Regions from separate parts of the Homo sapiens genome. Here regions 2 and 3 are each reported to be linked to region 1. The links are microRNA targets in miRTarBase. Many come from high-throughput screens and were not tested one by one. Region 1 holds a microRNA gene; each other region holds the end of a gene's coding sequence.
What was found. Region 1 holds the annotated microRNA hsa-miR-193a-3p (AACUGGCCUACAAAGUCCCAGU, at 2,167-2,188, shown strand). A microRNA usually pairs through its seed, bases 2 to 8, with sites in the 3' UTR of a target mRNA and lowers its output. Matches are read on the target gene's strand: a 7mer-m8 pairs with bases 2 to 8, a 7mer-A1 pairs with bases 2 to 7 and ends in A, and an 8mer does both.

Region 2: miRTarBase lists SLC10A6 as a target of hsa-miR-193a-3p. Seed matches in the 3' UTR shown: 8mer at 477-484 and 7mer-m8 at 523-529.
Region 3: the mRNA of IRF2BPL is a reported target of hsa-miR-193a-3p. Seed matches in the 3' UTR shown: 7mer-m8 at 2,089-2,095.

What each region holds. Positions count from the first base shown.
Region 1 is chr17:31,557,884-31,561,043 of GRCh38, forward strand. MIR193A (microRNA 193a) reads left to right here and starts at 2,113; the gene lies at 2,113-2,200. RefSeq lists a silencer at 895-1,384 and an enhancer at 1,126-1,916.
Region 2 is chr4:86,821,124-86,824,123 of GRCh38, reverse strand. It overlaps SLC10A6 (solute carrier family 10 member 6), which reads left to right. Exons shown (of 6, transcript NM_197965.3): 6 at 222-656. The coding sequence ends at 436. Among named protein-coding and RNA genes, the nearest start is that of SLC10A6, 27 kb to the left of the region's middle.
Region 3 is chr14:77,022,873-77,025,872 of GRCh38, forward strand. IRF2BPL (interferon regulatory factor 2 binding protein like) reads right to left here. Exons shown (of 1, transcript NM_024496.4): 1 at 1,671-3,000. The coding sequence ends at 2,530. Among named protein-coding and RNA genes, the nearest start is that of IRF2BPL, 4.3 kb to the right of the region's middle. RefSeq lists an enhancer at 674-968 and a silencer at 1,175-1,400.

The DNA.
Region 1 (3,160 bases):
CACTCAACCCTTACCAAAGTGAAGTTTAGAGACAGGGTCTCCCTCTGTCACGCAGGCTGGAGTGCCGTGGTGCGATCATAATTCACTGTAGCCTCTAACTCCTGGGCTTCAGCGATCCTCCCACCTCAGGTGTGTGCCACCACGCCCAGCTAATTTTTTTTTTTTTTTTAACTTTTTGTAAAGACAGAGTCTCACTATGTTCCCAGGCTGGTCTCAAACTCCTGGGCTCAAGCAATCCTGCCTTGGCCTCCCAAAGTGCTGGGATTACAGGTGTGCGCCACCGTGCCCAGCCTCATAGTGAGATTTAAAGGCATGATCTGGGTTGGTGAGGCCAGGAAAGAGAAGGCAGGAACATAGCTAATATCTATGTCGGGACACAAACAGATATGTCACGTTATTTTCTTTAAATGGCTCCAAATCTCGACCTGAAGAGGTTGGGAAACTCAACCTCAGTGGTTATTTGGGCTTCCCCATCACCCACGGTGCCTGGAATCCTGGCCATCTTGAGGCTGGGGATCTTGGTAGAGGCCTGGTTCAGGTCCCAGAGGAGACACGCAGTTACTCTCCCACATCCTGGCGTCTCCGGAGAGACAGTGGGGCAGCAGGTCTCCACCAAGGGGATTCCACTGACCTCCCACCCCTCGCTAATCTTGGGACAGCTCTTACTCAGCCTCAAAGCTTTTCTGTCCCACTCCTTTTCCACAGTCTCCCTAAAGGAACTCAGCTTTTCAAACAGCACAGCCAGGAAGAGAGGTTGTCTGCAGGCCGCTGGAACTGGGAGTTGAAAGCACGAAATTTTAACATCTCAAGAAAGTATGCTGCCCGGTACTATGCTTGGCACTTTAATTTATAATCTTTGCCACCAAAGCCCTGCCAGAAGTGCCCGGCGGCTCCAGGTTCTAGATGGGGAAGTTGAGGCCGGCGGCAGGCGCGCTCCACCGGGCGGGGGCGCGGCCCGGGAGCGGAGCGGCCGGCAGGGGGCTCCCCGCGCCGGTCTCCGCGGGAGGAAGCGCTGGCAGCTGCTCGGACGGGTCAAAGGAGGAAAAGGGAAAATTACTGGGCTCCGGGGCGGGAAGGACTGCGTGACTGGGAGGAAGGCACTCCAGACTGTCGAGTAGGGCCGCCCGCGTCGGGACCCCATCCCCGGGGCAGTGCGGGCCACCCGGGACCTGGGAACCCGGGCCACCCCCCACCGCCGTCAGGGTCTCTCCCGCCGGTGCCGCAGGCTGGAGCGGGCGTCGCGGCCGGGGGCGGTGCCGCCTAGGGGCGGGCGAAGGGCGGGCCGGGGCGGGGCGCCGTCCGCTCGGCTCCGGGAGGCGGTGCGGGCGGGCGCTGGCCGCGTCCGCCCGCCGGGAGCCGCGGGGCGCGCAGCCTTCCTGATGTGTCACCAGCACGTGGAGCCAGGTCGGGCCGCGGCGAGCAAGCCGACCCCCCCAACTTTCGAGGGGTCTCGCCGCCCCGCTCCTCTCCCGGCTTCGTCGGGCTCGCTCTCCTAGCGGAGGGGGCGGCGGCGGCCCCCAGGTCCCGGGCAGGTCGAGCGAGGCCACGGCCCCCGGCCAGGAGTTCGAGGGGCTCCCGGAACGTCGGGGCGCGGGCCCCGGCTAGCGGCTATGGCCCCCGTGCCCAGGCAGCGGTGCGGGCTCGGCCTTGCGGGAGGGTGCGGCCTGCTGCGAGAGGTCGGCCACGGCTCCTGCCCCGCGCCCCGCGCCCCTCGCCCGCCGAGCTGAGCGCAGGTAACCGAGGCAGAGCGGAGCTGGGCCTCGCAGGCGCGGCGTGGGAGCGTGGCGAAGTTTCTCGGCGCATAACTCTTGCGCCCCACTCGGGAGTGGGGCTGCGGTGGGGAGGCTTTGGTCCCCGCACCTCCCCCTCCCCCAGCGCTGTCCCTCGGCCTGAGCCGAGGCGGCCCGGGGGTGGCGTGGAGGCCGCCGAGCGTCGTGTAACCCTTGGAGGGCTGGGTTTGGAGCCCGCGACCCGAGGTCGGGCGGGGCGGTGGACTTTCCCGGGGAACGCCGCCTGAGGGACACCCAGAGCTTCGGCGGAGCGGAGCGCGGTGCACAGAGCCGGCGACCGGACCCAGCCCCGGGAAGCCCGTCGGGGACGCACCCCGAACTCCGAGGATGGGAGCTGAGGGCTGGGTCTTTGCGGGCGAGATGAGGGTGTCGGATCAACTGGCCTACAAAGTCCCAGTTCTCGGCCCCCGGGACCAGCGTCTTCTCCCCGGTCCTCGCCCCAGGCCGGCTTCCTCCCGGGCTGGCGTGCGCTCCGGCCAGGCTGCCTCTCAGGTCCACGCTGGAGAAGGAGTGGTGAGGTGCGCTCGCCCCGGCTGCGTGCGGTGATTCGGGAAATCCCCGCACTTCGCTGGAGAAATAGCGACGCTCTCGGAAGTGTGAGTCGGTCACTGCTTGGGGTCCGTACCCTTTGGGCAGACGTGGACCGCGCCCCGGCGACCTGGGTTGAGTGGACAGACGGGACCCGGCTTACCCATGGGCCAAGCCCTGCCACTTACCGAGGCCTGCCCTGCTGTGCTTTCCAGGGCGGCAACCTTGAGCTTGGGGGTGGGGAGAACGGGGCCTGACTTCTAGAATTGCCCCTGGGGAGGTGGGAAGCGGAGGTTTGGCCCGGTGGCGCAGGAAGCCCCTGTTCCTCTCCCAAACACCATTTCATTAAAGATGGATCTTTGTGGATGTGTTCCCAATGGCCGGTCTTTTGTTCCCTGACCGATGCAACATAATGTGGACCCACTCTAGTCCTCTTCAAGTTTTTTGCTGGAATTCCTTAAACTCTCCTTTAAAGTCTCTTATCTATTCCTCTAGTGCGTTTGCTTCTACTCCCCGAAAACAAAAACCCACCAACCCCTGAAACCTCGGGTTTGCCTGGTGTTGGAACTTTGGTTATTTGTCCTTTGTTTGTGTTGTGTTTTTGGCTCTTGGCCGTGGAAAAACATCTGGGGACATGCAGTGAGGTGACTTGAACTGTGTGAAGAACTGGTTGACAAAATAGGGAACGTCTGGTCCCTGTCTTACTTGGCTTTGGAAAACAGGAGAGGTTTTTAGGAGCTGGGAGGAGGGAGGGTGAGAGGGAGGAACCATCACGGCCAGGTTGGCCCACCCCTTGCCAGGTCGTGTAAAAACCCATTCAAGAGGCATTTTCCCACAGGCTC
Region 2 (3,000 bases), not on the chromosome of region 1:
GAGCCTCAATCACAAATGGTTCATCCAGACAAAAGAGCCATTCTGATACACTGAATCCTTCTGTTCTATAGCTTTCTCTCTTTCCCCCTTCTTTTCCCTGGGTGTTTATACATACATGATGCCACTGAAACAAACACCTGAAGGATTGACAAGTGTACAGTGTCACCAAATTAGACTCTTTGTTAAAGTGATTGTTAATACTTGTATGTTTTAACACCTAGCATATCAGACGTACAAGAGGAGATTGAAGAACAAACATGGAAAAAAGAACTCAGGTTGCACAGAAGTCTGCCATACGAGGAAATCGACTTCTTCCAGAGAGACCAATGCCTTCTTGGAGGTGAATGAAGAAGGTGCCATCACTCCTGGGCCACCAGGGCCAATGGATTGCCACAGGGCTCTCGAGCCAGTTGGCCACATCACTTCATGTGAATAGCAGGGACTAGCTGGCTGGACTGGCCCCCTTCTTTTTCAGTGGCCAGTAAAGACAGTGTGCAGCTGACACATGAATCTTGTTGGTAGGGCCAGTGTGAATATTTAAGTGTTCAATGTTAGAATATTTATATTTTCATGTGGATTGTGAATTGTGATGGGATCACTTTTGGAGATTCCCATTTCAGGGAGTTTCTTCTGGGGGTTAACATAACGTATCAATGAGCTGCCTTGTATGTTCTTGTCTTCCCATGCAGCAAATAGTACCTGGCAGTAGGTAAAATCCTTCATTAGGGGAACTTATCCTTATGTTGTGGATTTTTTTTTTTTGAGACAGAGTCTTGCTCTGTTGCCCAGGCTGGAGTGCAGTGGCACAATCTCGGCTCACCACAACCTCCGCCTCCTGGGTTCAAGTGATTCCCTTGCCTCAGCCTCCCAAGTAGCTGGGATCACAGGTGTGTGCCACCATGCCTGGCTAATATTTTGTATTTTAGTAGAGATGGGGTTTCACCATGTTGGCCAGTCTGGTTTCGAACTCCTGGTCTCAAGTGATCTGCCCGCCTCAGCCTCCCAAAGTGCTGGGATTACAGGCATGAGCCACTGCGCCCAGCCACGTTGTGGATTTTAATTGAACAAGAGTTAGAACTCTAAGTAGAGGAGATGTCACCTCATACTGCAGGGTGACGCAGACCTATGTGACTTCTTGACTCTGGGCAGGTCCTCAGGTGCACTGAGAGGAGAACAAATAGCTCTTATAATAAATGGGGCAGTTTTCTCAAATGATTATTATTTTTAAGAAATTGAAAATCATTTTGATTATAGATGTAACACAAGCTTGGAAAGAATTTAAAACACACATACGGTTAAAAATGGAATGCCCTGTATTTTCACTTTCTAAAGATTGACACATGGTTGGGCACAGTGGCTCATGCCTGTAATCCCAGCACTTTGGGAGGCTGAGGTGGGCAGATCACCTGAGGTCAGGAGTTCAAGACCAGTCTGGCCAACATGGTGAAACCCCATCTCTACTAAAAATACAAAAATTAGCCAGTCATGGTGGCATGCACCTGTAATCCCAGCTACTTGGGAGGCTGTGGCAGAAGAATCACTTGAACCCAGGAGGCAGAGGTTGCAGTGAGCTGAGATCACGCCACTGCGCTCCAGCCTGGGTGACAGAGTAAGACTCTGACTCAAAAAAAAAAAGAAAGACCCATGTGTATCCTTCTAAGCTGTGTATGTAAACTGTATCATTTTAAGAACCTTGAGATCATTCCATATATTGTTTTGTAAGTCACTTGATGACACATTATGGAACATCTTTGAGTGTCAGTCTGTGTTGACCTACCTCATTCTTTAGTATAGTAGTGATGTGGAAGTATTCTATTGTGTGGAAGGACTGTAATTTATTTAACCACTCCTTATTCATGGACACTTAGATAGCTTTCAGCTTAACAGTATTACAGTGCTGTTACAAACACTTTTGCCTTTAGGTGCAAGTATTTCTGTAGGCTCACTTCCTGTGACTTGAATTTCCAAGCCAATTGCTTACCGAAATGTATGACAGATTGCTATCTGGCAACGTTGTACAGCAGTGCCTGAGAGGGCCTGGTTTCCCACAGTCTCACCAGTCAAATGAATGATCAATTTTGATTGGTTAAAACATCTCATTTAAAATTTCATTTAGGCTGGGCGCGGTGGCTCACGCCTGTAATCCCAGCACTTTGGGAGGCCGAGGCGGGTGGATCACGAGGTCAGGAGATCGAGACCATCCTGGCTAACACGGTGAAATCCTGTCTCTACTAAAAATACAAGAAATTAGCCTGGTGTGGTGGCGGGCGCCTGTAGTCCCAGCTACTCTGGAGGCTGAGGCAGGAGAATGGCGTGAACCCAGGAGGCGGAGGTTGCAGTGAGCCGAGATCATGCCACTGCACTCCAGCCTGGGCAACAGAGCGAAACTCCATCTCAAAAAAAAACAAAAAACAAAAAACAAAATTTCATTTAAAAACTGAATGAACTAAAGCATTTTTCACAATCACTTGGCAACTTATGTCCTTTGCCTGCTTTTCTATTGTATCTTTTCCTTTTTGATGTATAGATTTTGAACCATAATGATAAGTGACAATGTGTCCTATGTTTTGTCAACATTTTACCTACTCGTTTATCTTTTGTTACTCTATGTCTTTTGCAATACAGAGTTTTATTTTTTTAATATATTCAGCTTATTAATCTTATTAAGAATGTTTTTTTTTTGCTCTGATCTCTGCCAAATGTTAGCATATTTATATATTTGTGTGGATTGTGAATTGTGATAGAATCTTTTTTTGAGAATGTATTTGGCCCCTTTTCAGGGAGTTCTTTCTGGGGGCTTACACAACATATTTACTAGCTGCTGTGTGTACTTCTTGTCTTCCCATGCAATACATGATGCCTGGCAGTAGGTAAATCTGTCCTCTACTAGAAATTATTAAAAATATTTTCCCATATGTTTTTCTAATACTGTGATGGAGCAAATACATACATACTTATTCCATTTTGAATTTTTCCTGTATGGCATAATAATCTAATTTT
Region 3 (3,000 bases), not on the chromosome of region 1:
ATCTTAGAGGATCTTCCAGGCAAAACATGCTTGGTTTTTATTAATGAACTTACACAAAAAGCCAACCCAGACCTTTAAGTGCAATGTGTGATTGGTAGCCAGGCGAGGATGGGTTTTGGAATTAACTCTTCCTACAGTCTGCTATGCATTATCACCCCCAAGTTAATTACCCCTGCGGATGAAAATAGGTTTCATGACTCATAAGCACCAATACAACACTTGGCAGCAGATGAAAATGCAAGGACACATTTGCAGGAAGCTGACATGAATATCTATTTATATGTGGGGAGATTCTTAGAGGTGAGGCAGGCACCTCCCATGTACCAGGATTAAGAGGCTGCAGCAGATCCATCAATATTGCCACTTATCCACACCCACACACACACACGCGAGTGCGCGTGCACACAGAGTCCTGGTTTCCACCACTTCAGTGATGGCAGTGGCAAAGCAGGAAAAGAAACTAAAAGGGTGTTATTAACAAGTTCCGACACCAGCCCGGCCTCCACACCAGAGTTCTGGGCGAACCAGTGATTTGTTTCTCCCCAAACGTGCCTGTACCCATCCCCACCTCCCAGTCTTCCCACTCCTTTGATGGGAGTGGAGTGGGGGATCCAAGTTTCTTAATAGTCCTTCAGCCTTGGAGGGGACCAACAGGGCCCAGCTCGCCCCGCCCAGGAATGAGATGTGGCCAGGAATCAATTTGACTGGATTGCCGGGTTTTGTTTTGCTTCCTCCCTCCTGTTTTCTGCTCTTCTATTTGCCTCCCAGGAAAGTACAAGGTTCAGATCAGGTTTGTTTGCCTTCCCCTACCACTGGGAGGACTCCAGGCTGCTCTCAGCCCACGAGCAGGGGCTCTGCTCTAAAGGGCAGTAGTCTTCTCTCCGCTTCCCCGCCTCTCTGCACCTCACAAACGCCGCCAAAAGCTGATTAGATGAATAATTGCATTGCTTCACCAGCAGGAATGGATTTTTATTTGATGTTGGAAGTAAACCTTTGCTTCAGGAACTAAGTTTGGGGTTTCCCCCCCTCTTCCTCATCCTCAGAAACCCTCTCTAATCAACTAAGTCTTTAGAATTATTTCTGCCTTTAAAAATAATTATTTAAAATACAAGAAAGAAAACTTGTAATGAATGAGGTGAAAACTGGTTTTCCAAGGAACCAGCCTGAAGCTACTGCGGACTCTCCAAGGCTGAGTGTATGCATTTGCTCCCAGCTCTGTGGCAGTTTTGTTTTAAATATGCAGACTGATGTCTGTCATATCTAAGAAGCAAAGCATCCTAGCTTTTCTCCTAGACTTTTTCGCCCACTTGTCAAGTCACCAGCTGCACTGGGTGTCAGCCTATGTTCACCGCCACAGGGCGAGGCACCAGAAAGCATTCTTGACAATGCCATTTGCAGCTGGGCCCGCATCCGGGGGAAAATAGAGATGCTGAAGAGTAAACCGAAATCGCTTAGTCAGCAACTGTCGCCTCCCCAAGAGGTGAATTTAAATAGCCTGGTACCGAGGGGGAGGGGCAGCAAGGCAGCACAGGGCCTTTCCCACAGGCCAGCTCCCAGGGCTTTCAAAAGCACTAGGATTTTCGTTCTATACTGGAGGTAGGGAGGGTGTCGCCTACGTCGGAGTTGCATGGCCTTAGCCCTAGAAAGACAAAATTGCTGACTCAGCGCAGTTAATATCAATTGAATTTATTACAAGTTACTAAGCTCCAAGGCACATTACAGTGTTCTGTTAACTACAGAAATGTATAAAGGACAAACAGAGCAGATTCTCCATGTCTAGCATTTCGCTCTACTGTTCAAAAGCATCCGTGCATCAATAAAGCAAAAACAAAACAACACGTGTAGATCCAACACATTCAGGTCAGTAGAAACAAACCAAAACATTTTCCCCTCACAAACTTGCAACAAAATACACCCCATCCCCCCCGACACCCCCTTACCATTTTGCAAACAAAACAGAAAAACAAAACAAAACAACAAAATAAAGTGAAGACTTCAACACTTGGGGCAGTTTAGAAGGAAGCTTTCACCATTTTATAGCATTTTTTTTTTTTTTTTTTTTTTTTTTTTTTTTTTTTAGGCAGCAACACTGGCCTTGGCAAAAAAAAAAAAAAAAAAAAAAAAGTCTTTTTCTTTTGTGTGTGTTTTTCCTTTCAGAGAGTGCATAACATTTACAAAAATACACACCAGCAGCAGTCGTTGCTAAGGGCTATTAATTCTGTACCTAGGCAAACATTCTGCCACCAAATAAATGCTAACGATATGATGCAAATGACCCAACCAATACTATACTGCTTAACACAAACCAGCTTATCCTTCAAATGAAGAAGTTACATACCTTTGTTTCAAAATATAGAAACATACGACGAAAATAATGTCTATACATAAGACTAACTTTTTGCAGTTTCGTTATATTCACAATTCTACACCTTGGGGGTGAGGGGAGGGAGGGTCGAGTTGGGTTGGGGGAGGGGCCCTCAGGATTGGAGAGGAGCTGGTCTAGGGCAAAGGAGGTGGCTGCCCAGTGGTTCAAGGGTCTCTCTCCTTTTTCACTTTAACATCCCCAGCTAAGATAGTCGCGATTTCGCCCTGCATGAAGGCCCAAGGTACATTCGACCCGACTAGGGGGCATTTCTCTCCGCTGGGGCAATACACCTCGCCGGTGGCCCCCTGGGCCTTGATACTCTCTCTAGAGCAAGGGAAGCAAAATTTGTGGCTGGGGACGGAAGGGCACTGAACGAAATGCGTATCCTCCAAACGTTCGTGGCAAATGGTGCAGCAGAGGGGTCCGCTGTTGGCCATGGGGGAATCCGGAATGTTTTGGGGGTGCACTTGGTCCATGCCCGGGTGGGCGCTAGGCGGCGGGGGCGCCACCTGTAAATTCAGGTCCCCGTTACGTGATGCCAAGCGGCGCTGCCCCGGCACGGAGGCCGGCGAGACTGGGCTGCTGCTGTTTCGCCGCGCCGACGCAGTGGTAGAGTGCACGGAACTGCCATCCTT